Linked DNA regions of Homo sapiens: regions 1, 2, 3, 5 and 6 are each linked to region 4. Evidence: fine-mapped expression QTL. A gene starts in region 4. Each other region holds a variant in brackets. All regions are shown on one strand. Distances are between the middles of the regions.

What was found. PIP is the estimated chance that this variant, and not a neighbour inherited with it, causes the effect.
Region 1: its variant is the best candidate, but not a certain one, in a credible set for the expression of MCUR1 in fibroblasts (GTEx, PIP 0.82).
Region 2: its variant is the best candidate, but not a certain one, in a credible set for the expression of MCUR1 in monocytes (Quach 2016, PIP 0.62).
Region 3: its variant is the best candidate, but not a certain one, in a credible set for the expression of MCUR1 in whole blood (INTERVAL, PIP 0.69).
Region 5: its variant is the best candidate, but not a certain one, in a credible set for the expression of MCUR1 in spinal cord (GTEx, PIP 0.76).
Region 6: its variant is the best candidate, but not a certain one, in a credible set for the expression of MCUR1 in cerebral cortex (GTEx, PIP 0.83).

The regions. Positions count from the first base shown.
Region 1 is chr6:13,757,378-13,762,454 of GRCh38, reverse strand. No RefSeq gene overlaps it. Among named protein-coding and RNA genes, the nearest start is that of RANBP9, 48 kb to the right of the region's middle. The variant GC/C (reference allele first, on the strand shown) is at 2,619.
Region 2 is chr6:13,773,394-13,777,961 of GRCh38, reverse strand. No RefSeq gene overlaps it. Among named protein-coding and RNA genes, the nearest start is that of MCUR1, 39 kb to the left of the region's middle. The variant G/AAG (reference allele first, on the strand shown) is at 2,838.
Region 3 is chr6:13,856,650-13,861,726 of GRCh38, reverse strand. No RefSeq gene overlaps it. Among named protein-coding and RNA genes, the nearest start is that of MCUR1, 45 kb to the right of the region's middle. The variant T/AT (reference allele first, on the strand shown) is at 2,489.
Region 4 is chr6:13,812,336-13,817,412 of GRCh38, reverse strand. It overlaps MCUR1 (mitochondrial calcium uniporter regulator 1), which reads left to right and starts at 2,856. Exons shown (of 9, transcript NM_001031713.4): 1 at 2,856-3,398. The coding sequence starts at 2,984. LOC107986571 (a long non-coding RNA gene) reads right to left here and starts at 3,603. Exons shown (of 2, transcript XR_001743986.3): 1 at 3,324-3,603. RefSeq lists an enhancer at 2,389-2,488 and silencers at 2,649-2,918, 2,999-3,668.
Region 5 is chr6:13,047,303-13,052,379 of GRCh38, reverse strand. All of the region lies in intron 4 of PHACTR1 (phosphatase and actin regulator 1), which reads right to left. Among named protein-coding and RNA genes, the nearest start is that of TBC1D7, 280 kb to the left of the region's middle. The variant G/T (reference allele first, on the strand shown) is at 2,608.
Region 6 is chr6:13,784,690-13,789,766 of GRCh38, reverse strand. It overlaps MCUR1 (mitochondrial calcium uniporter regulator 1), which reads left to right. Exons shown (of 9, transcript NM_001031713.4): 9 at 1-3,210. Among named protein-coding and RNA genes, the nearest start is that of MCUR1, 27 kb to the left of the region's middle. RefSeq lists a silencer at 446-614 and an enhancer at 1,283-2,115. The variant A/G (reference allele first, on the strand shown) is at 2,695.

The DNA.
Region 1 (5,077 bases), 55 kb after region 4:
CTTAATTTTTTTTATCATGAGCATGTAATAGATTTTTTAAAAATGAAAACTGGGCCAGGCGTGGTGGCTCACGCCTGTAATCCCAGCACTTTGGGGGGCTGAGGCAGGCGGATCACCTGGGGTCAGGAGTTCAAGACCAGCCTGACCACCATGGTGAAACCCCGTCTCTATTAAAAATACAAAAATTAGCCGGGCCTGTTGTCGGGCGCCTGTAATCCCAGCTACTCAGGAGGCTGAGACAGGAGAATCGCTTGAACCCAGGAGGTGGAGGTTGCAGTGAGCTGAGATCACGCCCATTGCACTACAGCCTGGGAACAAGAGTGAAACTCTGTCTCAAAAAAAAAAAAAAAGAAAGAAAGAGAGAAAGAGAAAGAAAGAAAGAAAGAAAGAAAGAAAGAAAGAAAGAAAGGAAAGAAAGAAAGAAAGAAAGAAAGAAAGAAAGAAAGAGAAAGAAAGAAAGAAAATGGATGTTTAAATACTAAGGCTCCTCTTGGGAAATATTCCCTGACTCAAATATCTCTCTTGACTCCTGCACCCAACTCCCCAGGAGGAAATTGGGAATCTCTGAACAATCCGTGGGCTGAATACGAAGGAATCTGCCTGGCTTCTTGGATACACACTTCATACTCTCAAGGACAGCCCTCTTTATTGGAATGCACAAAGTATGTGGAAAAGAGATACCATGTCTTGTCGGATTCAATTTTGCTCCTAACATAGTGTGGATTAAAGAGTAATCAATAGTGACTTTAAGCACATTCTTTCCGGCAGTATCACAGAGAAAATGCAGCTGGTAGTGAATGTACCAGCCTGCTGATTGCAGGGAGCTAAACATGTGTATTGTATCTCCAGATGCCTGACACTACCTGCCAAGCCAACATGAAGCACCCACCCAGGTTGGACCAGGAAGCTTCCTACCTGGTCACGTAGGAAAAGACTAAACACATTCATAACGTGTCTATACAGGTATTGATTCTCCAAGAGATGATGGATCAGGCTTCAGAAAGAGTGGTGACCTTATTGTATGTTTCTGTATTATCTTTGCTGAGCTAATGGCCCACTTCCAGACCAAGAGCACAAATTACAAATGAATGCCCCCAACAGCAGTTCCTTTTCCATCTTTACTATACGGGGAGCCCACTAAAATAAAGGCTGTCAATGCAGCATCTCTCATTGACAGTCTGTTCATTGTGGGCTAACTGGATTGTACTGGACAGAGTTCTATTCACTGGAAATCATTAGCCAACTCCAGAGGGAGGAAAACGGAATAAAAAGGAAAAACATTGCCCATCACGAAAATAACTCGAGAATTGTGCAATCTGGCAACATTGGTCATCTGTGTTGAACTTGCTTTCAGCACTCTGTTAAGTGTACTGTACCACACCCTACCTCTGAAGCGATTACTCCCTTCCTTTTGAATAGCAAAGTAATGGGAACTGGAAAAACTTCTGTGAATTTGGCAAGGTTTAGTATAAATGTTTCCATTAAATCTGGGCAAGGCATGGATGGGGGAGGGAAACGCATCCACCGATTATGCTTTTGTGCTACCTCTTGGTTGAGGGTTACCTTTCAGAGGTGAAGCCAAACTTTTCCCATCCTTGAGATCATGCCTAGACCTAGTATACTTGGCTGACAATATGATTTTGCTACACAGCTTATATATCGTTCACATATGTTTGGAATTATCATGGAACTTCATGTTGTACTGAAAGGTTTCCCACAGCAAATTCTTTTGCACATAGAGCTACCTAGTGTCAGAGTTTCTTCCTAAGGACACCACACTTTTCCATTTAACACAACAGGGCAGGTGCTTCAGAGGATTTCAGTTCAGTCGGGAGAAATTTACTGACTGTTTTCATACATGTTCATGTCTTGTTGCACAGCCACTCTGCGAGGCTGACATCATTGACTTAACTTTACCAGGGAGTAAGCCATTGCTCAGGGAAGTGAGTGACCTGCCAAGGCTGCCCCACTGGTACATGCCAGAGCTGGGACTCACACCCAGGTCGTTCTGGCTCTTATGGGAGCTTCCTCCCCTGCAGTAAAGCCCTCTTTGATGCTGAAGGTCAAGGTGTGGCTCATAGTTTGGACAGGGCTTTTAGGGAGCCTGGCCAGACCCTGGAGGGACGTTGATGAGAATGGGGACTTGGAGTGGGAGAGTTTCGGTAATCCACCACACAAGTGCACCTGGAGCCTGAGAGGTGGGGTTCCTCCAGCTTAAGGGCAGGTATGGAGGGACTAAGCCACAGGGTAGGACTTTAGAAAGACTGAGGAAAACACAGGTGGGCCTTTAGTTGTGGAGGATATAAAGGAAGCCATGATGGCATTGACACAGAATCAAAGGTATCAAAGGGGTCAAGATGAAAAGCTTCAAGGCGAAACTTTCATCACAGGGGCTATGGTGGTGAGCCAATTACTGGAATCAGGTCACAGCAAGACCAGCACCAGCCTGACTCGGTACTAAGCCTCTACTATGTGGCAGGCACTATTCTAGTTATTATGGAAGTAGCCATGAACAAAGTAGATCAAGTATCTGCCTTCGTGAAACTGGAGTATAGTGAGAGAAGATGAATAAACAAGGAAATATATATCTAATTAGGTTAAATACTATAGGGAAAAAA[GC/C]TGCATAATGGAGTTCGTCGTGCTGGTGACGGTGGTGGTGTTTGCTATTTTACATAAGGTAGTGAGGGAAGGCCACAGGCCATGGGACATTTGAGCAGAGACTTGAAGGAAGGGAGAGGGTAAACTTCCTGAATACCTGGGAGAAGAGCTTTGCGGGCGGAAGGAACACTTACCGCAGAAGCTTTGAGATCAAGGGTACTTGGGGTGTTTTGGTATAGCAAAGAGATCAGGTTCACAGGTCAGGGAAAGCAGTGTCTGAGATGATGGTTGGCACACATATGATGCTTACTAGGAAGTGCTCTTGGGATCAAACCATGGAAGGGAAAGAGGGGCAGGAAGCAAGACTGGGCAGAGGGGGATGAGCTGTGATGCAGTCTCAACTAAAGCCCCAGACAACCCCATGGGGATGTTGAAGATAGGATGGCCCTTCAGAGCTGCTCTGAGCTGGGGAGAGGGGACAGGCCTTTACACCTCCAAACCATTCAGCCACTGGATACTGGCTACGTTGAGAAGGGAGTGAGATAGGGTGTTGAGGGGGACAGCGCTCTCCAGCCAAGGCCACCTCAGCATCCGAGGGGTGGCAGCCAGGAGCACGCCTCAGCTCCTGAAGGACGCTCTAGGCAGCACCTGCTGGTGGGATTGGAGCTTGAGCCAGGAGGCAGGGACAGAAGATGAGCTCAGGGAGGTGTCCAGGAGCCAGACTGGGGGAGCCACTGTGGGCCATGGTAAAGACATGGCCTTCTCTTCCTCATGAGGTGGGGAGCCATCGAAGGGTATGACAGAGGAATGCTAAAGTCTGGCTTCTGGGTTAACCTGATCACGCTGGCAGCTGTGTGGAATAGACCGCAGACGGGCGAGGGGGAAGCACGCAGGCTCACTAGGGGGTGCCTGTAGTCCTCCATGAAAAAGGAGACCAGTGTGTAGCTGGTGGCGGGTGTGAACAGTTGTTGGATTCTGGATATATTTTGAAGACAGAGCCAATAGGATTTGCTGATGAATTGGATTTGGGGTGTGAGAAGGAGAAAAAAATGAGGACAACACCAGTGTCTCTCTGGAGTAACTAAAAGGCTGGTGTCACCATTTACTGACACGGGGAAGCTTGTGTATGGGTTTCCTATTGCCACCATAACAAACTATCACAACCTTAGTGGCTTAAAACAACACTAGTATGCTCTCTTACAGTCCTGGAGGTCAGAAGCCTAAAGTCAAGGGGTTGAGTCTGGGTGTGGTGGCTTGGTTTGTGCCTGTAATCCCAGCACTGTGGGAGGCCAAGGCAGGTGGATCACCTGAGATCACCTGAGGTCAAGACAAGCCTGCCAACATGGTGAAACCCTGTCTCTACAAAAAATACAAAAAAAAAAAAATTAGCTAGGTGTGGTGGAGCAGGCCTATAATTGAACCTGGGAGGTGGAGGTTGCAGTGAGCTGAGATCATGCCAGTACACTGCAGCCTGGGCAACAGAGGGAGACTGTGTCTCAAAAATAAATAAATAAATAAATAAACAAATAAATAAATAAATGATAAAGTCGAGGGGTTGGCAGGGCTGTGTTCCTTCTGGAGGCTTCAAGGGAGAATCCATTTCCTTGTCTTTTCCAGCATCTAGAGGCTGCCTGCATCTCCTGGCTCATGGCCTCTTCTCCATCTTCAGAGTACGTCATTCCAGCCTCTGGTTCAGCTGTCACATCTCCTTTCTCTTTCTGACTCTGATCCTCCTCCCTCTCTCTTATAAGGACCCTTGTGATGACATTGGTCCCTCCCACATAATCCAGCAGCATCTCCTCATTCTCAAGATCTTTAATTTTCTCACATCTGCAAAGTCCCTTTTGCCCTGTATGGTAGCATGCACAAGTTCTGGGGATTCGGATGTGGACATCTTTGGGAAGCCGTTATTCACACTTTGGAAAGAGCCTGTTTTGCAAGGTAGAATCTGACTTTCATTGTGGACATGTTAAATTTGAGATGCCTTGTTAAATGTTCAGGTGGAGATGTCAAGTCAGCAGTTGGATACGATATGAGTCTGGCATTCAGAAGAGCAGTCCCAGCTGAAATATGAATTTGGTAGTTTTCACAATATACAGAAGTGCCCTCTTATCTGTGGGGGATACTTTCCAAGACCCTCAGTGGGTCTGTGGGCCTGAAACCTCAGATATTACCAAACCCTATATACTGTGTTTTTGCCCATAGATACATAATCATGATACAGTTTAATTTACAAATTAGGCACAGTAAGAAATTAACAGTAACTGGTAATAAACTAGAACAATTAAAACAGTCTACTGTAATAAAAGTTATGTGAATGTAGTCTCTTTTCTCCTCCCTGCCTCTCTCTCTCCCAAAATATCTTTTTTTTTTTTGAGACCTAGTCTTGCTCTGTCACCTAGGCTGGAATGCAGTGGCACCATTTCGGCTCACTGCAACCTGGACCTCCCAGGTTCAAGCGATTCTCCTGCCTCAGCCT
Region 2 (4,568 bases), 39 kb after region 4:
GCAGGGTGTTTATTTGTAGGGTGCCAAGCAAGGAGAATCAGGCAGCTTATGCTTAAGATCTGAGGCATATAGGTAAGGGTTTTTAAGGCAGGGAGGCAGGGGTTATAGGCAGTCATGAATTAATTTTTTGAGCTTTCCCTATTAATATTTATGTGAATGAGCCTGGACAACATGGTGAAACCCCACCTCTAAAAAATACAAAAATTAAATACAAAAAATTAGCCAGGCATGGTGGCAGGCGCCTGTAGTCCCAGCTACGTGGGAGGCTGAGGCAGGAGAATGGCGTGAACCCGGGACACGGAGCTTGCAGTGACCTGAGATCACGCCACTACACTCCAGCCTGGAGGACGGAGCGAGACTCCTTCTCAAAAAAAAAAAAAAAAAATTAGCTGGGTGTGATGACGCAGGCAGGAGGCTCAGGCAGGAGGATCACTCAAGTCCAGGAGGTCAAGGCTACAGTGAGCTCTGATCATGCCACTGCACTCCAGCCTGGATGACAGAACAGGACCCTGTCTCAAAACAAACAAAAAAACAGAAAGAAAGAAAGAAATGTATGTGGGCTGGGCGCGGTGACTCACGCCTGTAATCCCAGCACTTTGGGAGGCTGAGACAGGCAGATCACCTGAGGTCAGGACTTCGAGACCAGCCTGGCCAACATGGTGAAACCCCGTCTCTACTAAAAATACAAAAATTAGCTGGGCATGGTGGCAGATGCCTGTAATCCCAGTTACTTGGGAGGCTAAGGCAGGAGAATTGCTTGAACCTGGGAGGTGGAGGTTGCAGTGAGCCAAGGTTGCGCCATTGCATTCCAGCCTGGGCAACAAGAGCGAAACTCCATCTCAAAAAAAAAAAAAAAAGAAAGAAAGAAAAAATGTATGTGAATGCCTTTGCTTGGTTGTAAGCACCAGCAAGTGCTAGTAGGCAAGCAGTAGCAAATCTCCAAAGCTTAGAACTCCATGGGAAAACATTTAAGATGGAGAAAACCGTACCTATTACCTTTTTCCTGAGACTTAACAAAACCATGATTATTTCGTTTTAGCAGCACGATATCTTGTTACGGTTGCTAAAAACCAGTTTTTACAGGCAGATATTTGACCAGTAAGAATACTATGAGTCAGGAGCCCTGGCCGTAGCTCCCCACCTTGCCACTTGTTGCACTCTTGGGAAAACCATTTGACCTTGCCAAGCCTAAGTCTTAGTCAGTCCGGACTGCTATTACAGAATACCGTAGACTGGGCGGCTTCAACAACAAACGTTTCTCTCTCACAATTCTGGAGGCTGGGAGGTCTGAAATCATGGTACTGGCTGGCAGATCTGGTGTCTGGTGAGAGCCCACTTCCTGGTTCACAAATGGCTGTTTTCTTGCTGTGTCCTCACACAGAGTGGAGAGACGGAGGAAACAAGCTCTCTAGAGTCTCTTCTTTTTTTTTTTTTTGAGACGGAGTCTTGCTCTGTCGCCCAGGCTGGAGTGCTGGGGCGCGATCTCGGCTCACTGCAAGCTCCGCCTCCCGGGTTCACGCCATTCTCCTGCCTCAGCCTCCCGAGTAGCTGGGACTACAGGCGCCCGCCATCACGCCCGGCTAATTTTTTGTATTTTTAGTAGAGATGGGGTTTCACCGTGTTAGCCAGGATGGTCTCGATCTCCTGACCTTGTGATCTGCCTGCCTCGGCCTCCCAAAGTGCTGGGATTACAGGCGTGAGCCACCGCGCCCGGCCTAGAGTCTCTTCTTATAAGGGCACTAATCCTATCATGAGGGCTCCATGCCTATGACCTCCTCACCTCCTCATACCATCACACTAGGGAGCAGGGTTTCAACACAGGAATTTGGGGGAACACAAATTCAGTCCAGAGCACCTTAGTCCTTATGTTTCGAAAACAACAACAACAATAATTATAATAGGAATGCTTATAGAGCATTTATTTACTGTATTCCAGCTGTAGTTTTTTGTTTGTTTTTTGTTTTGGTGGGGGTTGGGGTCTCGCTCTGTCACCCAGGCTAGAGTGGAGAGATCTCAGGTCACTGCAGCCTCCACCTCCCAGGCTCAAGCAATCCTCCCACCTCAGCCTCCCAAGTAGCTGGGACTATAGGCATGTACCACCACACCCGGCAAATTTTTTGTATTTTTTGGTGGAAAAGGAGTTTCGCCATGTTGCGCAGGCTGGTCTCAAACTCCTTAGCTCAAGCTATCTGCCTGCCTTGGCCTCTCAAAGTGCTGGGATTACAAGCATGAGCCACTACACCTGGCCTCCAGACATAGTTTTTTTGTTTGTTTGTTTGTTTTTCCGAGACAGAGTCTTGCTCTGTCACCCAGACTGGAATGCAGTGGCTGATCTCAGCTCACTGCAATGTCCGCCTCCCGGGTTCGAGCAATTCTCCTACCCCAGCCTCCCAAGAGCTGGAATTACAAGTGCCTCCCACGATGCCTGGCTAATTTTTTTTTTTTTTTTTTTTTTGTATTTTTAGTACAGACACGGTTTCACCATGTTGGCCAGCCTAGTCTCGAACTCCTGACCTTGTGATCCACCCGCCTCAGCCTCCCAAAGTGCTGGAATTACAGGCGTGAGCCACCGCGCCCGGCCCAGGCATAGTTTTAAAGTAATCACAATCTCATTTAATCTTCATCACATCCCTATGAAGTAAGTACTACAGTGATCTCTATTTTGCAGATGAAGATACTGAGGTATAGAAAGTTTCAGTAGACTGGATGAGGTGGCTCACACCTATAATCCCAACATCTTGGGAGGTGAAGTTGGGAGGATCCCTTGAGCCCAGAAGTTTGAGACCAGCCTGGGCAACATAGGGAAACTCCATCTCTATTTATTTAAAAAAAAAAAA[G/AAG]AAAGAAAGAAAGAAAGAAAAAAGTGGGCCTGGCGTGGTAGCTCATGCCTGTAATCCCAGCACTTTGGGAGGCCGAGGCAGGTGGATCATCTGAAGTCAGGAATTCAAGACCAGTCTGGCTAACATGGCAAAATCCTGTCTCTACTAAAAATATTAAAATTAGCCAGGCACAGTGGCGTGCACTTATAATCCCAGTTACTCAGGAGGCTGAGGCAGGAGAATCACCTGAATCCAGGAGGTGGAGGTTGCAGTGAGCCGAAATTGTGCCACTGCACTCCAGCCTGGGTGACAGAGTGAGACTCTGACTCAAAAAAAAAAAAAAAAAAAAAAAAAAAATAGTAATAAAAAAGTTGAAGTAACTTGCCCAAGAACACATAGCTAATAAATGGTGACGTCAGAGTCAAACCGAAGCATTCTGATTCCAGGGAATAGATACCCTACCTGGCTGACCACATGTGGTAAGGATCAAATGAGGTCAAATACATGAAAATATTTTCTAAACAATAAAACCCTGGCCAGGTGCAGTGGCTCACGCCTGTAATTCCAGCACTTTGAGAGGCCGAGGCAGGTGGATCACAGGTCAAGAGTTCAAGACCAACCTGGCCAAGATGGTTAAACCCCGTCTCTACTAAAAATACAAAAAAATTAGTCGGGCATGGTGGCAGGTGCCTGTAATCTCAGCTACTCGGGAGACTGAGGCAGGAGAACAACCTGAACCTGGGAGGCGGAGGTTGCCCTGAGACGAGATCATTCCGCTGCACTCCAGCCTGGGCAACAGAGTGAGACTCCATCTCTAAATAAATAAATAAATAGTAAAACCCCATACCTACATATAAAATGTGTAGTCTGCATGCAATAACTGGAATCCTTTGCTAGTAATTACTAGTAATATTACTTGCCCAACCACCAAACAAGCAAACTTCTGTTAGTACCCTCCCTGGCAACCACCCCAGGGTACTAAGGTGAATTTACTAAGATGCAGTATCCTAGTAAAAGAACATTCTTCTTCGAGTATCTAGGGTACAGACTGTAGTAGGTATTAAAACAACGTAGGTAACCCATGGACATATCCGTAAGCTCTCAAGTGTTATACATCAATCTTCCATGCAGACCCCAGGGTGATTGTGAATATTTATATTTTTATTGGGGAATCTTCGTATAAAGGGGTTGATGTTGACATGGAGCCCACTGTTTGGGTCTCAGAGTCACCCTGAGTTTAGGCCTTAAATACTTGTTTGATTCAGTACCCTTGTTTTTGAGACAGGGTCTCACTTGTCACCCAGAGTGCAGTGGTGCAATCTCAGTTCACTGCAACCTCTGCCTCCTCATGCTCAAGCCATTCTCCTACCTCAGCCCTTCATATAGCTGAGACTACAAGCACGCACTACCATGTCTAGCTAGTTTTCGTATTTTTTTGTAGATAGTGTTGCCATGTTCCCCAGGCTGGTCTATGAACTCCTGGACTCAAGAAATCCGCCTGCCTTGGTCTCCCAAAGCGCTAGTATGTCTGGAACTGGTAGGTTCTTGATCTCATTGAAATTATGAATGAAGCCACGTACCCTCGCGGTGTGTTACAGCTCTGAAGGTGGCGCGTCAGGAGCTTATTCCTTCTGATGTTTACATGTGTTTGGAGTTTTTTCTTTCTGGTGCGTTCGTGGTCTCGCTGCCTTATGAGTGAAGATGCAGATTTTTGTAGTGACTATTAAAGCTCAAAAAAGCAATGTAGACCCA
Region 3 (5,077 bases), 44 kb before region 4:
AATAGCTGGGACTACGTGCCCATGCCATGCAACCACACCTGGCTAGGTGTTGTTTTGTTCGCATCTCACTATTTGTGTGGTCGGTTTCCAGCTCTTGGACTCAAGTGACCCTCCCCCCTTAGCCTCGCAAAGTGCTGGGATTACACTCATGAGCCACTGTGCCCCACTCAAGAGACATGTTTGAGGTGAGACCCAGTATCCACGAGAGAAGACCGATAAACTGTGTCCAGAATTCGTGCGTTCTTAGTCTAGACTTTAAAGCTGCAAACTCTAGTGATACTAGTTCTTAAAAACAGTATGTTCCGAGTTTCCTCCTGCTCACGTTTGGATGTAATCACTTTCTTCCTTTTGCTGGGTTCACGATCATCACCAACTCAGAAATGAAACCACAACCCTTACTCAGGGAGTATAACAGCTCTTGATGCCCCACATCTGGAGTTACTGATTTTCCCCGGTGCGTTAATACGCTCATCAACTTCGGGAATGAAACCGCACATTTTTAATCAACGACTGTTGCAACTCACAAAACTCAAAAAACTGAATTATAAACTTTAATTATAGAGTAAAACAACAACCCCTGTAAAACAACAAACCCTCCACATCCCCAGGAAACAACCTGACTGGCTTACCACTGCTGACTCAGGCACCCTGCTTTTATTCTCTTATATGGCCCCACCCACATCCTGCTGATTGGTCCATTTTACAGAGAGCCCATTGGCCAGTTTTACAGAGAGCTGATTGGTCTGTTTTGACAGGGTGCCGATTGGTGTGTTTACAATCCCTGAGCTACACACAAAAGTTAGATACAGAGTGTGGATTGGTGTATTTACAAATCCTGAGCTAGACACAGAGGGCTGATTGGTGCATTTACAAACCTTGAGCTAGATACAGAATGCCAATTGGTGCATTCACAATCCCTTAGCTAGACATAAAGATTCTCCAAGTCCCCACCAGATTAGCTAGATACAGAGTGCCGATTGGTGCATCCACAAACCCTGAGCTAGACAGAGGGTGCTGATTGGTGTGTTCACAAACCTGGAGCTAGACACAGAGTGCTGATTGGTGCACTCACAATCCCTTAGCTAGACACAAAGGTTCTCCAAGTCCCCACTAGACTCATGAACCCAGCTTGTCTAACCCAGTGGATCTCCCACTGGGGCCGCAGGTAGAGCTGCCTGATAGTCCCGCGGCTTGCGGGCCCGCGATCTCAGCCCTTCGGGGTCGATGGGACCGGGCGCGGTGGAGTAGGGGGCGCCGTTCGTTCATGGAGGTTCAGGCCGTGCAGGAGCCAACAGCGAAGGCGGGGTGGGACTCAAGGCATGGCGGGCTGCAGGTCCGGAGCCCTGCCCTGCGGGGAGGCAACTAAAGCCCGGCGAGAAATCGAACGCAGCACCGGTGGGGCAGCGCTGCTGGGGGACCCCGGCGCACCCTTCGTAGCTGCTGGCCTGGGTGCTAAGCCCCTCACTGCCCGGGGTGGCAGGGCCGGCCAGCCAGCCACTCCGAGTGCGGGGCCCGCCGAGCCCACGCCCACTCCGAACTCTATCTGGCCCGCAAGCGCCTCCCGCAGCCCCGGCTCCCGCCCCTGCCTTTCCCTCCACACCTCCCCGCAAGCCGAGGGAGCCGGCTCCGGCCTCGGCCAGCCCGGAGAAGGGCACTCACGGTGCAGCGGCGGGCTGAAGGGCTCCTCAAGGCAAGCGCCTCCCGCAGCCCCGGTTTCCGCCCGTGCTTTTCTCTCCACACCTCCCCGCAAGCCGAGGGAGCCGGCTCCGGCCTCGGCCAGCCCAGAGAAGGGCACCCACGGTGCAGCGGCGGGCTGAAGGGCTCCTCAAGCGCAGTCAGAATGGGCGCTGAGGCCGAGGAGGCACCGAGAGCTAACGAGGGCTGCGAGAGATGCCAGCATGCTGTCACCTCTCAATTTGACTACATAAAATGTAAATTTCATCCATCAAAACCAACACAAATAATAAAGTATAAAAACATTTGCAAGACACAGGAAAAAGGGCTAATCTATTTAATATAGGGAGTTTTTGCAGCTCTATAAGAGAAGGCATGTAAACAAAATATGATGCAACCAAAATTCTGAAAATGAAAATTTCAAAAAATCTGAAAATTAGCTATGCTTCACCATCAGTTACAAATATGTCTATATATCTTAGTACTGACAAAACAATAATTTCGTGTTTTATTTTAAGCAACATAGATTCCTAATCCAAAAAACATCAGGAGGTAAAGAATCTTCAAATTGGAAATGTTATTTAGTGGCCAAAACACCCATAGAAAATGAATTGCACTGCTGAATCATTTAAGATTGAGATATAGTGAAAATAATCTCACAGTATTCACAAGTACAAAACAACATAGTATAAAATAACGCTTATAGAGTTAATGAAGTATTTCCAAAATATTAGTTATTTCAGAAATATCTCGCCTCTAAGTTGACCCAACTTAATATGCTGACAATGACTTGAAGCATTCACTTAAAATATAT[T/AT]TTAAAATATTCATTTTATAGCTTCTTCAGAAGAAAGAAATATCTTACCTCTCTAGCTTCCATCTCATTTTTCCGTGCCCTTACAGCAAAACTCTTTAACCTGAAGATTAATCTGTCCATGATATAATGTTGTGAACAAATCAAACTATAAAGCGATAAGATTAGCATCTTTCCATTTTTTTACGTTTTAATAACTACAGGATATAAATATATGGTTTTTTAGCACAGAGAACATACTTCACAAGAGCAAAATTAAAGTAGGATATCTTGAACTTGAATTATAAACCCCCTATCGCTTAACAGGCACTTGTTGTTTTTGTAACTTTACACACTCCAATAAGGCTTTTCGAAAGTTTTAATGTGTAAAAGTATTTATTGAACACAAAGCTTTCAATAGAATATGATGTAAGCATTGAGCAGCTTTTGGATTTATAACATAGCTAAGTCCTAAAATGCAAAATTAAATTATTGAATGGTTTGGCCAACTTTAATAAAATAACTAGAGAAATTAAGGAACTTCCATATTTTGCTTTCATTGTTTAACTCAAAATATTTTTCAAAATAATTAACTGAGTTTAGAATGCAAATACATCCCATTGATCCAATTTTTTGAAAAAGGAAATAAACAAAATATAAAGAAACCATTTCTTGATTTTGCTGTTAGAGAGTATGATTCAACTTTGGGAATTACATTCATTTGGGGGACACGTTAATTGTAATGATTAGAAGATTTCAAAATGTTACAGGCAGGGCTATGGTAGAATAATACAATAAATTGAGTATATTCATGCATAAAAGCAGGCCTAAGAGAAAGACAACATACACCACCTGATTCAGAATCTCAAATTTCTTAAGTAAAAAGGCAGTAAGCAAGCACCAGACATACCCATTTATTTTGGCATTGTTCAAAATACACGTTTTTTACCTACTGTGTGAATTCTTGAGATTGCCACAAATTCCATCCCAAGAAATTCAGACACTATATCAAAGAATTTAAATTCTGAACAAGTTAATATTCCCTTTATAGCTTCAATTTCTATGAAACTGAATTTTCCAGACTAATAGAGGCACTGTGCAAAAAAATCTTCTTTGAATTAGTGAAAGATAATAAAAGTTCTTAGGCTGTTTGGATTAACAATAACACTCAAAACTTTGATTTAAAAAACTTTTCACAGTATGAATGCAAAAATCTTATTGAATGTTAATGCAACAGCAATGATTTTACCAAGAAAAATTAGAACAGATGTTTGATAAGGTTTATACTTCCTGGAAACATCATATGGTCAAGTTTTTAAAATAGAAATGAATTTTAACATAACCATTAAGGAAGCAACATCTACTATGCAGAAATGAAACCTAAAATGTCAATTTTTAAATAAACAGGGAACAATCGCAAGCCTCCTTTTTGATGAACTGGCAATACAGAAATGTATATTAAAGTTAATATTATCCACAATTCCCTAAACAAAACACAAGATACAGCTGCTGACTTATACAAATGTATTTCTTACGCCAACACAAATGGGTGAAAAGTCCATTGGGAGAAATGTAGAGCCATACAAAAAAAAGCATCTTGTAACTTGGTAGAGTTATTACCAGTAGAATCACAGGTTCGGATAGTCAGTCAAAAGTAACATTTTACAAAAGAGTATAAAATAGCATGCATTTAGGCTTTGCCAATTGCTTCAGTTTTCAATTAAAAGGGTATCAAAAATCATTACAGGCCGGGTGTGGTGGCTCACGCCTGTAATTCCAGCAGTTTGGGAGGCCCAGGCAGGTGGATCAACTGAGGTCAGGAGTTCAAGACCAGCCTGGCCAACATGGTGAAACCCCATCTCTACTAAAAAAATACAAAAATTAGCCAGGCATGGTGGCAGGCACCTGTAATCCCAGCTATTCAGGAGGCTGAGGCAGGGAGAATTGCTTCAACCCAGGAGAAGGAGGTTGCAGTGAGCCAAGACTGCACCACTGCACTCTAGCCTGGACGGCCAAGTGAGACTCCATCTCAAAAAGAAACAAACAAAAAAATCATTACAAATAAAGAAAACAGACAAGTGCTTCAGAACAGTGGTTCTCAAAGTGCAGTCCCCACATAGCAATGTCAGCACGTTAAAACTTGTCAAAAATGCAAGTTCTTGGGGCCGGCGTGGTGGCTCACACCTGTAATCCCAGCACTTTGGGAGGCTGAGGCAGGTGGATCACGAGGTCCGGAGTTCGAGACCAGCCTCGCCAATATGGTGAAACCCCATCTCTAAAAAGAATACAAAAATTAGCTGGGTGCAGTGGTGCACACCTGTAGTCTCAGCTACTTGGGAGGCTGAGGCAGGAGAATCCCTTGAACTTGGGAAGTCGAGGTTGCAGTAAGCCAAGATCGTGCCACTGCACTGCAGCCTGGGTGACAGAGTGAGACTCCGTCTCAAAAAAAAAAAAAAAAGCAAGTTCTCACCCCACTCAACCCCCAACTTGTTCAATCAGAAAGGAGGTGGATCCAGCAATCTATGTTTTAACAAGCTCGCCAGTGATTCCAACAGCAAGAGAAGGACTGGGCTAACTACAGACAATTCAAAACCGTTTCATAAACCTATCCTA
Region 4 (5,077 bases):
AGTGCAATGGTGCAATCTCAGCTCACCGCAACCTCCACCTCCTGGGTTCAAGCAGTCCTCCTGTCTCAGCCTCCCAAGTAGCGGGGATTACAGGCATGTGCCACCACACCCAGCTAATTTTGTATTTTTAGTAGAGACGGGGTTTCTCTAGACTGGTCTCCAACTCCCGACCTCAAGTGATCCGCCCTCCTTGGCCTCCCAAAGTGCTGGGATTACAGGCGTGAGCCACCGCGCCCGGCTGCTCATTAACTCTGATTGGGTGACATGCCCATGCCTGTGGTCTGCAGAGCGATCAGTCTCTCCAAACCGCATGGACTGAGAGCAGAGAAGAGCCACTGCCCATGGAAAACTAGGGTGCTGAGACCAAAAGAAAGGGAATGCTTTGGAAAATAAAACAACAGGTGTCACATCCAAGGAAAAGTGGATGCTATCCAACCTGTAGTTAGAACTGACATTCATTATACTCCTATCATAGGCCAGGCACTGTGCTAAGTGCTTTACATATGTTATTGTATTCAATATGGCTGGTAATAGTAATACATGAAAAGTTAGTCAACATCATTAGGCATCAGGGAAATGTTATGTTAAAAATCACAATAAGGTACCATTTTATGAGGACTGAAAATATCAAAATTTGGCAAGGATGTGGAACAACCGAAACGCTCATCTATTGCTAAGAGTGTGAAAGGGTGCAGTCGCTTTGGAAAAACAATTCAGCAGTGTCTAAAGTTAAGCTACCATATGATTCAGCAATTTGACCCAGATACTTTCCCCAACAGGGATAAAAATTATGTCCACACAAGGTCTTATACAAGAATGTTCATAACGCCCTATGCATAATAGCCAAAAACTATAAGCAAAGCAAATGGCCATTAATAGAATGGATGACCGCTTGTGGTATGGTCATACAATGGAATACTATTCAACAATTAAAAGCAACTAATTACTGATACAACAGCATGGATGAATCTCATTGATATTGAAGTCAGACGCAAAGCAGAAGAAAGACACAAGGCAATGCATATTGTAGGTCTCCATTTACATGAAGTTCAAAAAAAGACAAAACTAATCTATGGTCATTGAAATTTGAAAATAGTTGGCCGGGCGCGGTGGCTCACGCCTGTAATCCTAGCACGTTGGGAGGCCGAGGCGGGCAGATCACAAGGTGAGGAGTTCGAGACCAGCTTGGCCAATATGGTGAAACCCCGTCTCTACTAAAAATACAAAAATTAGCCAGGCGTGGTGGCAGACACCTGTAATCCCAGCTACTCAGGAGGCTGAGGCAGGAGAATTGCTTGAACCCGGGAGGCAGAGGACACAGTGAGCTGAGACTGCACCACTGCACTCCAGCCTGGGTGACAGAGCAAGACTCCGTCTCAAAAAAAAAAAGAGAAAATAGTTGCCTTGGGGTGGTGGTGGATTGTCTGGAAAACTGGCACAAAATAACTTTCTGGAGCAATGAAAATGTTCTAGATCTTGACTGGGTGGTATATACAACTGCTAAATGTCATCAAGTTGCTAAATGACATTTATCAACTGCTAAATGTCACCTAAGTCTGTGGAATTTACTGTATGCAAATTATACCTCAATTTTTAAAAATTACAAAGGACTAACATTAAAGTTTGTGCCACAGTTTAATCGTTCCTCTAATGTTGTGCACTATTTTCCCATTTTTTCACAATCACAAATTATGATACAATGACTATCTTTTGTGCATATGTGAAATTACCAATATTAAGCATTTTGACCCATAAAAATGACAAGTTTGTATAGTCAAACCTAGTAGATATTTAATATTTTGGATTATTCCCATTATCCCCATTTTTAGTTAGGTGACTTGAGAAAAGTTTACAAATTTTTGTTGATACTCATTGCTAAACTGCTTTTTCTACCAATTTTATAAATGTATACTCCTTTTACAAAAGTGTCTTAGGTTGGTGCAAAAGTAATTGCGGTTTTTGCCATTACTTGCAATGGCAAAAGCCGCAACTACTTTTGCACCAACCTATGACTTGAATCCTGTTTTTCAGTTCTTCAAATTTTGATAGACACTTATCTTGCACATCCATATGCACGCTCCTCTCTTCCCAGCACTTTGTACATCTCTCATGGCTCATAACACATTCTTCCATCACGTATGTGTACACATATGGCTGTATAGGAAAACAGCTTCTGGAGGATAAGAACAATTTGTTTTGCGGTTTTTTATTTTTAATAAAATCTCCTAGCTTGGTGCCTTATGCATTTCATTTATTTATTCAACTAACATCTTCCAAATTCACATAAGGGACCAGTTATCTGTGAATGGTGTAACAGGCCTTCAAAAAGTCCACGAAACTAAACATTACCAGTTTCAAATATACCCGACAGGTCTCATTTTAACATTCATGCCCCACGTTTTAAGTTCCCAGATTGCTACCTTCCCATGTTTTTGGTGCTCTAATCTGGAAACAAAAACTCTGAAAATTTAGTTTTGAATGTATTATGTGAGGGCCTTTCCCTGGGCCCTGCTAATAATTCCTTAAAATGCTCCCCAGAACCACATGTTTGGGGACTTAGGATAATCAGTGAAATCTAGGGCAGCCTGTCGGTCTGAGACTTTTCACAGGACTCTGAAGGGCACCGGGGTAATTCCTTTTTAAGGACAGCAGTGCAGTGAAAATGCAAATCGTGACAGCAACAAGCTCCTTCCAGTTCCGGAGTGCCCGCAGGCTCCTCCCGGTCGCCGCCGTCGCCTAGCGAATGGGGTGGGGGCTCGCACGGTCCCCGCATCTCGGAGCGCCACGGCGGGCTCCTGCCGCCCCGCCCCACCCCACCCCCGGCGCGCGTCCCGAGCCCCGCCCGCGCGCCCGGCAGGAAAGGGCGGTCCTGCGCTGTGGCCCACGCTCGCTCCCGCTGTCGGACTCTGGGCCTGGACCGCGCGTGGCCGGCGCCAAAAGCGAGAGGCATGAGCGCGCGCCCGGGCCAGTGAACTGCTCGGGGATGGACTGCGGCTCGGTCGGCGGCCAGAGGACCCAGCGCCTGCCCGGCCGCCAGCGGCTTCTCTTCTTGCCCGTGGGCCTCAGCGGAAGACCGGGCGGCAGCGAAACCTCAGCACGCCGCTGCCTCTCTGCGCTCTCCGACGGTCTGGGGGCGCTGCGCCCTCGCGCCCCGGCGGCCCGCGGCGGCGTGTCACGTGCCTCACCGCTGCTCCTCCTCCTGCTAGTGCCCTCCCCGCGCTTGGCCGCCGCAGCCCCGCGCCGGCAGCTCGGGGACTGGGAGCGCTCGCGCCTCGGGTATGCCGCACCCCCGGCCGGGCGCAGCAGCGCGTGGAGGTGCTCACCGGGCGTCGCCGCTGCCGCCGGCGCCCTTCCCCAGTACCACGGCCCGGCGCCTGCACTCGTTTCCTGCAGGAGAGGTGAGGCCCGGGCGGGAGAGGAGAGGGGGCTCGTCTCGCGGGGTTGGACGGCGGGGCGGGGATCTCAGCTACAGCCTCCCCGAGGAAAGGCCCGGCAGGCCGGAGGGCGGGTCCTCCAAGGCCACCGGCATCTGCCCGGAGCGTGGGTCGAAGGTCCGGGCCCGCCCTGCTCGGCCGCGGTGGCGGGGCTTAGCCCAGAAGAGACGAATTCCTGGGAATCCCGGGCGCTAAAGTTGGAGGGAGGTGCGTGCTGGGGCGGGGAGTTGGTGCCCGCCCACTCCTAGGGTCTGCTTTTGGGCGCCGCCTTCCAGGAGTTCTGTTTGGCAGCGCCCAGCCTGTTGGGCGTTCAAGGGGAAGGGGTGTGTATGTTTGAGCAGCAAAGCTCTGGGAAATGAAGGGATTGCTTTACAGTTTGATTTCAAATTCTGATGGAATCATTAATTCGTGGAGTCCTAGCGTCTGCCCTGTCCCTGGCGCTTTTCTAGATGTGTGAGATATATCAGTCCACAAAATCTTCCCTCTGGAGCTTAATTCTAGCAGAGCAGACGCAGTAAATATGTGTGTGTGGATATACGTATGCATAATTGATGTATATATAATTTATATATACAAATAATTTTTATATATTCGTAATTCGATGCCTGGTATAGAAAAATAGGATAAGGCTTGGGAAGTGGAATGGGTCTCCAGTTGTGAATTTAAATAGGGTGATCAGAATCGATTTCATTGAGAAGGTAGCATTTAATTAGAGTCATGCATCTCTTCAGGACAGTCGCCTACTGAGAAATGAGTCATTAGGCGACTTCTTCCTTGTGTGAATATTGTAGAGTGTGCTTACACAAACCTGGATGCTACAGCCTACTACACACCTAGACTATCAGGTAGAGGCTAGTGCTCCTAGGCTACAAACCTGAACAGCATGTTACCGTACTGAATACTAGAGGCAATCTGAACACAATGGTATTTGCGCATCTAAATGTAGAAAAGGTAGAGTAAAAATATGTATTATAGTCTCATAGACCACTGTCGTGTGTGCCCCTCTGTCCTGGGCTGAAAGGTAGTTGTGGGGCTCATGACTATTTAAAGGAGGTGAGAGAGATCACTGCCCTGGAGATGAGGAAAGTAAATAGAATCAATTTATTAGATAGCATATTGTTGATTAAAGAAAAAAATCATTTCTGATAATCAACAGACTTGGCAAAATTATCACTTTGGGCAGTCTATACATATTCATTAGTAGCCATCACTAACTACACATTTTTCATATTTTCTTCAACAGATAGGCCCACTAAATGTTGACCATATCTATAATTTAAGAATATCATTGGCTGGGGTAAAAACTGATTAGTAGAGCAATAAAGTGAAGGAAACTTTATATACAGAGAGTGGGGAATGAGTAGTGAACTCGGTGTCACTGTCCTTCAGTAATTAGGAGTCGGAGATGAGTTTGGTCTTTATTCTGTATTTTGCCTTTTGTTGCGCTTTTTCTGACAAGCTAGTAATTTCCAATTTGTTTTTCTCTCAATGCAAGAGTATAGGGCAAAAAGAGAGTGTTCTTTCTCACGGATTTGCTGACCAATCGGTAAGGTGGTACTGTTGTTTTAGTGTCAGCTATCTCATTCTTCAGTCATCATAAAAAATGAGTATGGATGCATAAAAACAGAAGAGAGCAGAGACAC
Region 5 (5,077 bases), 770 kb after region 4:
AAATTCATCCAGACTTCTGCAACCTATGCATTCCTTGCAAGTTCAACCTGCCAATGACCATATAAAAATGATAGTCAGCTTGTTGTGGTCTGAACATAGTTTTAACTCAGGAGATCCATTCATTAAATACATATGGAATTCTGAGTGTGTGCTGTGGCAGTTGTATTGGTGACAGATGTGATAAGCTAGTAAGAGCTCCCCACAGCAGGACTGAAAGAAAGTAGATGGAATTGAGAGACACGTCAGAAGTAAAGTCAAAAGAACTTAGTGACTGATTGAGTGACCAGAAGGACTGGAGGCAGATCATTGGCAATTCCAAGATTCAGGTCAGCAGAGTGGTACCCTTCATTCATAGAGATAAGGAAGACAGGCGAGGACACAGGTTTAGGGGTGAGGGCAGTGATGATTTGGACATGCTGCAATGAACAGGGCACTTAAACCTTTACTACCTGGTTCAGTGCACTGGGAGCTCCTCTTTTCAATCATTTGATTAAGTGGCCACTTAAATCTCTGCCAGATACTATGATCATTTCTGGGGAAGACACACAGGAAAACTGGCCTTGAGCACAGAGTCCCAAGGAGGAGACAGAGAGATCAGTGTGTAAGAACATACCACAACAGAGCTACAATATAAAACTCAATGTAAGTGAAGAGGAGAGAGCAACTAATTCTGCTTCACAGCATTGGAGAAGACCTCGAGGGAGGTCACTTTGGGCTTAAGTTTTGAAAGAGAAGGGGCTGTTCTCCTGGCAAGGGGAAGAGGGAGAAGCGGATCCCTGGGAGGAGAAACAGACCCAACAGGAATAGAGAGGGCTGAAGGCATGGAACATCTAGGGACTTCAAGGAACTCAGTCAACTGTGAGCCTCAGTGACGTTAGGTGAGATGAAGCACTAGTGGAGAGAGACAGGGGTTGGAGGGTCTGGAACCAGATCATGTAAGCTCTTGAAATGAATTGGCATTTGGGGTTCATCCTCTGAGCAGAGGGACAAGGAAAATTTGAAAATGGGAAACTGGTATTATCACATTCAACCAAAATGTATTGTATGCCCACTCTGTACCAGATGCTTAGGCTATGACGGTAAACAAAACAAATAAAAATACCAACTCATAGAGCTCACATGCAGAGGTAGGGTGAAGGGCAGACAGCAAACACTGAAACCAAATAAATTATAGAGTATGCCAGAAGATACTTGCTTTGGGGAAAAAAATAATGAGTGGAACCTGGTAAAATAGATCAAGAGTACTTTGGGTAGAATGGGGGGGTCGGCCTGATCGAGAAGGTACGTGATCAGGATGCAATTAGATTTGTTTCTTAGGAATATCTTTGCAGCAGCAAAGGTAACCTGACTCGGAATATGGGGAAATCCTTGACAGCGAGAACAATCAGGAGGACACTGCAATCACAGTAACTAGGATTCAAGCAGGGGCATGACAGAAGGATAGGAAGAAAAGATGGGATTCAGCCAGGTGGGAGAATCAGCAGATTTGGTAACTCTCTGGATAAACATGAGAAAGTACCAGGAAGCAAGAATGGCTAACATTTTTAGTTTTCATGACTAGGTCAATGTGATGATTTTACATGTTTTAAAGAATTTGATGATAAAGGAAGAAGCAGAATAGGATGGCAGCTCAATGGGGACAAGAACTTTGCAGCCAGATAATTCAGTATTTTTGCAAAGGCTTTTTAGGGGTTAGAACTTTATTTCCTGAGGTAATGAAGAACTATTGAGAGGAAATTTGCCAAGGTAGGAAGGAGAGACTTGATTTGGGGGTCAGTAGGCTGAGCTGCCAGAGCCAGGGGAAAGTGAGAGATCGAAGATGTAGAAAAAATGCTGAGAAATGTATGAAACATGGTTCTTAGGAAGGCGAAGAAGTGGGATCAAAAATGCACAAAAGTATTACTGATCAGGAGATTTTATGCTGAGTGATTGAAAGTTTGAACTGAGGTCTCTGATCACAAATGGCATAGATCAGATGTGGGCCTCAGGGAGATTAATTTCGCAGCAGTGGTAAAATAACAGATTACTGGAGGCTAAAGGAGGAAGATAAAAGATTCAGAAGGTTTTAAGTACGGGTTGTGGAATGGCTGAAGAGAGTGGTAACAATAACAACAACACAGCTACGACAAGGAATAAAAAAAGAAATCAAATCAGGCAAGTAAATAGCCTCAGAAGTAACACTGAATTTGAGCATTCTGCTTTTTAAAAGGCATCAGCTGCTTGAATTGGTGCTTCTTCAACAATGTCAGCAGAGCCACACAAGTAGTAATAATTGTGGGAAACCACAGCAAAGAGGTGCTGAGTCCAGGAGAGAAGCAAAGTCACCATAGTCCAGAGGTCTGATTCTCACAGGTCACTTCCTCTTTCATACTCATCACTTTCCCCTCATTCCTTACCTTGGTGTATAGTCTTGTTGCTTTTGTCCACATTTTACAAGTCTCCAAACCTATATTCCCAGACTTACTCTCCTGCCTTCAAACCTGTATTGGATACTTTTACTAGAAGCCTGTTCCTTGTAGGAACTGCAGGTGGCTCCCCACAGCATACAGTAGGAAGTTCTAATTTCCTGTACTGGCCTTCAGACAAGGCCAAGAATCACTTATTCAA[G/T]TTTTTTCCTCCATGAAATAACCTATTTTTTATATTAAAACAACCTGACTTATTACTCTCAACCTGAGTAAGCTGCTCAGAATGATCTTCTAGTACTTCTCTAAACACGTGTTATAGCCAAAATGAAATACTCCTGGTAGAAGCACTCATCCCGGGATCTCTGGATCCTAGTGGGCTTCAAGGGGATGGGTATCTGCATTTGGTTGGAAGATTTCCTATCATTCTTTGATTCTCAAAACAGCCTAAGACACAAAAGTGAAGTTTTTAAAATATTCAGTTTGAGAATTCTCTGAGTTCAGCCAACATCAAACATCTGCTACAGGTTAAAGAGAAATTATATACAGAATCCTTTAAAAAATCAAGATAGTAATTATTCAGGGTTGATACTGAGTTTGCTTCTCATAGTTGGCACTCAATAATGACTTACTGAGTAGATAACTGGGTAACTGCATTTGATTCAGTTCATTTGCTCACATCTTCAGAGGTATGAAAATATGTATCGTTACTTGTCTTAAAAAAAAAAGTGCCATGAGAACCGAAACGCTTTTCCATAATCACATCTTTAAGAAATGGATACAAATTATTCTGAAATTGCCCCATTAAAATAATGATATGAAATTAGAAGTGCCTTTGAAAAACCAAGAGTGGCAAGGAACACAGGGTATTATAAAGGTATAATTATAACTCAATAGTTAAATGAATCCTTAATAAGTATTATTATGAAATTCATGATGTTTAGCTCTTAAATTCAGTAGATTATTGAGCAGACTGGATCACATTAGGTTTAGCTGATTTATATTTTAATCACCCCATTACATTTTTCTCCAATTAATTTGATGATGGGGCTAGCTTTGCCATCAGATAATGATATTGGAAGGCTTAAGTGTGAGGATGGCTCAAGAGTGAGCCAACTTATGAACACAGTTTGAAAAGGAAGGGAAGGCTTGGTGCGGTGGCTCACGCCTATAATCCCAGCACTTTGGGAGGCCAAGGCAGGTGGATCACCTGAGGTCAGGAGTTCAAGACCAGCCTGGCCAACATGGTGAAACCCTGTCTCTACTAAAAACAGAAAAATAAGCTGGGTGTGGTGGCATGTGCCTGTAATCCCAGCTACTGAGGCTGAGGCAGGAGAACTGCTTGAACCCAGGAGGCAGAGGTTGCGGTGAGCTAAGATTGCACCATTACACTCCAGCATAGGTGACAAAAGTGAAACTCCATCACACACACACACACACACACACACACACACAAAGAAATGGAAACCAAAAAACAGGTCTCAGGATAAAGTGGTCTCCCATTGCAGGAACCAGAGAAAGAAAGGGATGAAGGCAAGTGGGAGAGCAGGGCGTGGCCTGCCATGTTTTGGAATCACAAACAGCCTTTTTTGGAAATGGAGCATGTAAAGACAGCTTCACTTTGGCCTGCTCAAAGGTGGCTACCTCATGCTGTCTGGAGAAAATGCTGAGCCACACATGAATCAGCTTGAATGTCAACTGCCAGGACTGAGCATGTTGAATCAAAACGTTGGAAGCTGGGCAGCTGAGCTCCTTCAGAAGGCTGAAGTGAGGAGAGAGCCATGGGCAAGCAAACTCCTGGGGTCTTTCCTGCTCTACCATCCAAGAGAACACTCTTTGAAGGACCACACAGTTTGGGCTCCCACTTATGACAAAACTGGGTTTTGTTTTACCCATAGGGTGGAAATGATTGGGAGATGATTTTTCTTTCTCCTTAGACAGGCCAGAAAGAAAATATTTGATGTATGCATGATTTTAATGACAAGAACCAAAGTACCTAGGCCAGATGGTGTTCTGAACCCCAGCCCTGGTGGCAACCTGGGATTACTCTTGGTGGGCTCCTAGGGCATGCAGCGGGAGGAGCTGGGCCGGGGCTCGGGGCGCTCCTCAGGTACACCATATTTCTCATGGTGGTTTGGCTTTCAAAAGGCTTGTGCAAAGATGGCATCACCTTGGCTTTCTGCTGGCCTAGAAAGTGCTCGTCATACAGTATCCCAGGGAGCAGCCTGGAATGAAGGAAGCATGGTGTCTGTGCCATCTGATGTCTAGTCAGAGTCAGCACCAGAGGCAGGAGGGCAGCCCATTTGGGACCCCAGTGGAGATCTCCCCATGTGCTAAATGCTCCTAGGGTTTTTGGAGGACCTAAGATTCTCATAAATTGGATTCTTGTTTCTTAACCCTAAGTGAACTCAATAACAGAACGTTTATGTTGCAGGATCTGATAACCTTCGCTTTTGCTTGTAATTAGAAGGGGTTATATACCTCCCTTATTTCACCACCCTAGGAATGGGAACCAAAGATCAGAGTGGAGGTAAGGTAGGCTGTCAGCTCACTACGCTGAAGCAGCAGCACTGCCTTTTTTTTTTTTTTTTTTTTTTTTTGAGACAGGGTTTTGCTCTGTCACCCAGGCTGGAGTGCAGTGACATGATCTCAGTTCACTGCAACCTCCACCTCCC
Region 6 (5,077 bases), 28 kb after region 4:
ACCTACCTAGAAAACCTGCTGATTCTTAGCATGGAACTTTGCTTCAGTTTGCAGGACAAAGTCTGCTTCCTTCCGGTCTTCATTTACTTTTTATACAAGGGATGCAGTCAGCTCTCCATGTATAAGATACCTAGATGATGGATACATATTTCATAAATGAAATTTATGTCATTAATGAATATCCCCTTGCCCACAACCAGCTCAGGCTTTCAAAATTCGAGAATGGTCATGCCACACAGCATTCTAATCTAGATGGATTAATTCTGTTGTTCAAAACATTCTCATACCTGCCTTTATATTGAAAACAAATTCTAGATACAACTGGGGTTATTCTGGAAAAGCACATTCTCACCTTTTTTTTTTTTTTGAGACGGAGTCTCGCACTGTCGCAGGGCTGGAGTGCATTGTCGTGATCTCTGCTCACTGCAACCTCTGCCTCCTGGGTTCAAGCGATTCTCCTGCCTCAGTCTCCTGAGTAGCTGGGATTACAGGTGCCCACCACCACGCCCAGCTAATTTTTGTATTTTTAGTAGAGATGAGGTTTCACCATGTTGGCCAGGCTGGTCTCTAACTCCTGACCTCGTGATTCACCCGCCTTGGTCTCCCAAAGTAGTGGGATTACAGGCGTGAGCCGCTGCGCCTGGCCCATTCTCATCTTATTCAAATTACTGGCACATGGGCAAGAGAGACAATGACATGGATAGAAGCTTTTCTGCCTTTCTCTGCACACACATACAGTGAAGGAACCACAGGCAGATTTTTTGATCAGTTTGGTGAATACATTGCTCGTTGTCACTGTTCCAACCACATTGGTAAAAAAAATAGTTACCTTTTGTCCTTTGGATGTCATGTCTAAACTTTGGAAAATATAAGTCATTGCCCTTTTAGAGAATGTTTGTGTAGTCCAAAGATTGTGAGCTCCATATAGTATGAAAATCAAGTACTTTTGCATGAGCAATAGCAGTTTCAAAGTGAAATATTATAATTTAATCTTTTTCAAGTAGATCAAAAATTCTTAACTGATTAATAAAATATTTTATCAATATATCATCCCCCTTTCAGAGAGAAGTCCCCAGAAGAGACAGCACACTTAGCAATTGCCCTCATTATTAAAGGCCTAGGTGAGTGGCATAAAGGGCCATATGCGATTATGTTTCAAGGTAAACATTACCTAACCTTGTGTGGGTTAAAAACAGTGAAGTGTCCTTGTATCCTGATAAAATTTTTTTTTAAATAACATGGTGGGTTGACATTTTTGCATCTGCTATAAGTTTTCTCACATGTCGTTCTTCCTGGTGAGAGCGGGCTGCATCATTCTGGCACTTAATTTGGGTGTTCGATTTTGCTATAGAGTTCTTTGCAGTACAGCATAGCCTCTTCTTGGCCTTGGGAACAGTGAACTCTTCTTTTGATGGTGTGGATTGCATGCATATCTGGAGAGAGGAGGGCTCAGGACTGTGTTCACTTTATTTGGTCAGATGTATTTTATTTGAAAACCATTTGAGCCCAAAATACAAGTGTACCCTTCCCACTTCTGGCTCAAGCACCCGTGAGCCGACTAGACGTAATATTAAAACTTACTGATGCTGGGTGCGGTGGCTCATGCCTATAATCCCAGCACTTTGGGAGGCCAAGGCAGGCAGATCACCTGAGGTCAGGAGTTGGAGACCAGACTGGCCAACATGACGAAATGCTCTCGCTACTAAAAATAGAAAAATTAGCCAGGCGTGGTGGCACACCCCTGTAATCCTAGCTACTCGGGAGGCTGAGACAGGAAAATTGCATGAACCTGGGAGGCAGAGGTTGCAGTGAGCAGAGATTACACCACTGCAACGAGACTCGGGCCCAGACGAGATCTGCCTGGGCGACACAGTGAGACTCTGTCTCAAAATAAATAAATAAGTAAATAGAACCTCCTGAGCTACCCTGGCTTATAAGGATTCAGATTACTTTAGGAAATTAGGCATTAGCACTAGGAGGGGGGAAGATGGCTGGCAAAACTTCTAGCTAGCAACCTATGTCTAGCACATGGGTAACTAACCATAGCGAGATCCTGAACACATATCCTCTAGGTGCAGGTGGAGGGAACGATGTCCAATACCTGAAGCAGAATCTCACATGGACGGAACGTCTGTATTTCCCTCTCCTGCACGAATCACTCATCATTCTTGGAGGGCTTCTCTGCATTCCTCCTTTTCTTCTCTCCCCTCCCCTGCCTTTTGTCTTTTCTAAAGAGTCTGAACTCCGATTTCCATGCTCTCCTGCTACATTAATAAGCAAAACCTGCTTGTGTGTACGGTTCTTTACTGGAAACATGACTTTTTGTTTCTGTATTGGTTTTACTGTCATCCAGTTTTCTAGTTTAATATCTAGCAAAACTAAATCTGAATGTACTCGCTTTTTCCGTTAAGTATGCCAAGCACCTCGGTTGAAAGGCTTGACTCAAACCAGAAGTCTTGCTGGAATTCGTCTCTGAACACTTGAAAAACAGAAACCCTGAGCCGCAACAAACATGCCTCTGTGTGTCGGGATTGCCTTTGTCTCTGCTTCCATGTGGCTTTTCCTTTTGTAGCTATGCTTAGTGACATAATCTTCCCTCTTCTAGCCTTCTCCTTTCAAGCCTGTCTGTTAATTAACCATGTCAGTATTGGCAAGCATTTATCTTCCCCCACCCTAACATGCAATCTTCTAAGA[A/G]TTTTGCAAAATTCTAAACAAATATAGAGATGGTATATAGAATTCATATCTAGAAAACTTTGATTTTAATGTGAGCTTATCAAATTTGTTCTGGCTTTTTTGGCACTAAGGCAAAAACATGTTAACCAGAAATAATTTATTCTTCATGTATGTAAAATATTTGAGAATGTTTAGCCTTTTATTAGAATTTTATTTGGAAAATATTTATCTTTCTACACATTTTACACTTATGTTCCTTTGCTTATAACCCAATTTCTTAACTTTTTTGTTACTTAAGCAAATATCAATTATGTTTTATTATCTAATAAAGTGTAAGATTCTTACTATCTAAAATATTTAATTCTGTGTGACTAATATACTTTTCTGATCATTCAAATTGAATATGAAAAGCTAGAATAACTGTATTGCAACTGTTAATTCCAGCCAATTGTATAATGATAACACTGGTGAATTTCTAAGTAAATCTAATACTTGAAAATTTGGGTATACATAGAAAATAAATTTTAATATAATGTACAAAGTAACTTTTCATCATTCAAAAGAATTTCTTTAGCATGTTCATGTTATGAGTAATTTTATACAAGCTACTTGTTTGAGGGGAAATGATGAGGTTTAAATACAGGTTTTTAGAAATAGACAATTTTCTTTTTTTTTTTTCTTTTGAGACAAGATACTACTATTGCCTAGGCTGGATGGAGTGCATTGGCGCAGTCACTGCTCATGGCAGCCTCGACCTCCCAGGCTCAAGCGATCCTCCCACCTCAGCCTGGGACCCAAGTAGCTGGGACCACGGGCATGCGCCACCACACCCAGCTAATTTTTTTTCTATTCTTTGCAGAGATGGTGTCTCACTATGTTGCCCAGGCTGGTCTCAAACTTCTAGGCTTAAGCCATCCTCCTGCCTCAGCCTCCCAAGTGCTGGTACTACAGGCATGAGCCACTGCACCTGGCTGAGAAATACACAATTTTAAAAAATATCTGGCCGGGCACGGTTGGTCTTGTCTGTAATCCCAGTACTGTGAGAGGCCAAGGCGGGTGGGTCACTTGAGTCCTGGAGTTCGAGACCAGCCTGGCTAACATGGTGAAACCCTGTCTCTACAGAAAATAGAAAAATTAGCCGGATGTGGTGGCACACACCTGTAGTCCTAGCTACTCAGGAGGCTGAGATGGGAGGATGGCTTGAGCCCAGGAGGTAGAGGCTGCAGTGAGCTGTGGTTGTGCCACTGCACTCCAGCCTGGGTGACAGAGCCAGACCCTGTCTCAAAATAAAATAAAAATAGCTATAAGGATTCATGGAAATCCAAATCAGGCTAGCTTGAGCAGAAAAAAGAATATCCTTTTTTGGCTTATGTAACCAAGGTTCAGGAAGGACCAAAAAAATGCCATTGTGAGAACTCCCCTCTGCACCTCTTACCTTTGCTTCTTCTCTGGAGGGCATAATCCTCCTAGACCTACTTCTTCAAGCACAGAGAGCCTGTGTGTCTGCAGGAAACACCCAGTACATCCCCTTACAGCTTAATGATTAGTGAGCTCCACCCTGAAAAATCTTGGGAAGGAAATATCTAAAGCAAGCAGCTGGGGTCACAGGAAGCAGAAGGGTCCTCAGAGGGATGCACACTTCACCTTCCCTGAGGGCCTGTTGAGCAAATTCCCCACCTCCAAAAAATTGAGCTCTTCTTGAGTCAGCCTGTGTGGGTTGATCTTCAGTGTAATTAATACCTGCTCAGGAGGAGAGGAAAGGAACATCTCAGAAAAGGGGGTAAATGAAATACAGGTCTGGGCACGGTGGCTCACATCTGTAATCCCAGCTCTTTGGGAGGCCAAGGCAGGAGGATCACTTGAGGCCAGGAGTTCGAGACTAACCTGGACCACAAAGCAAGACCCTGTATCTAAAGTGAATGAATGAATGGTAGCCTGGAAATTTCAGTTACATCTCATTTTCTCCAACCAGAAATCTTGTACCAAAGTTAGAATCAAATAACTAGACTTGAGGGGGAACTGCAAAATTTCCAGAAGGCAACTAGCAGATGAGGTAGGCAAAGGCGGTAAATGATTTGCAAACTCAACCTTCAAGTTCAAAAATGGTGGGCAATGTGTTAGATTTTAGTCATCCTTCCACATCTCCCCTAGGTCCCCATTTCACATCAGTGGTAGGGGAACAAACTAAAAACCTTTTCTTTGCCTTGAGTTTTTTATTTCTTTTTCTTTTCCTTTTTTTTTTTTTTTTTTTGAGATGGAGTTTTGCTCTTGTCGCCCAGGCTGGAGTGCAGTGTTGTGATCTCGGCTCACTGCAACCTCTGCCTCTCGGGTTCAGGCAATTCTGCCTCAGTCTCCCAAGTAGCTGGGATTACAGGCGCCTGCCACCACGTCCGGCTAATTTTTG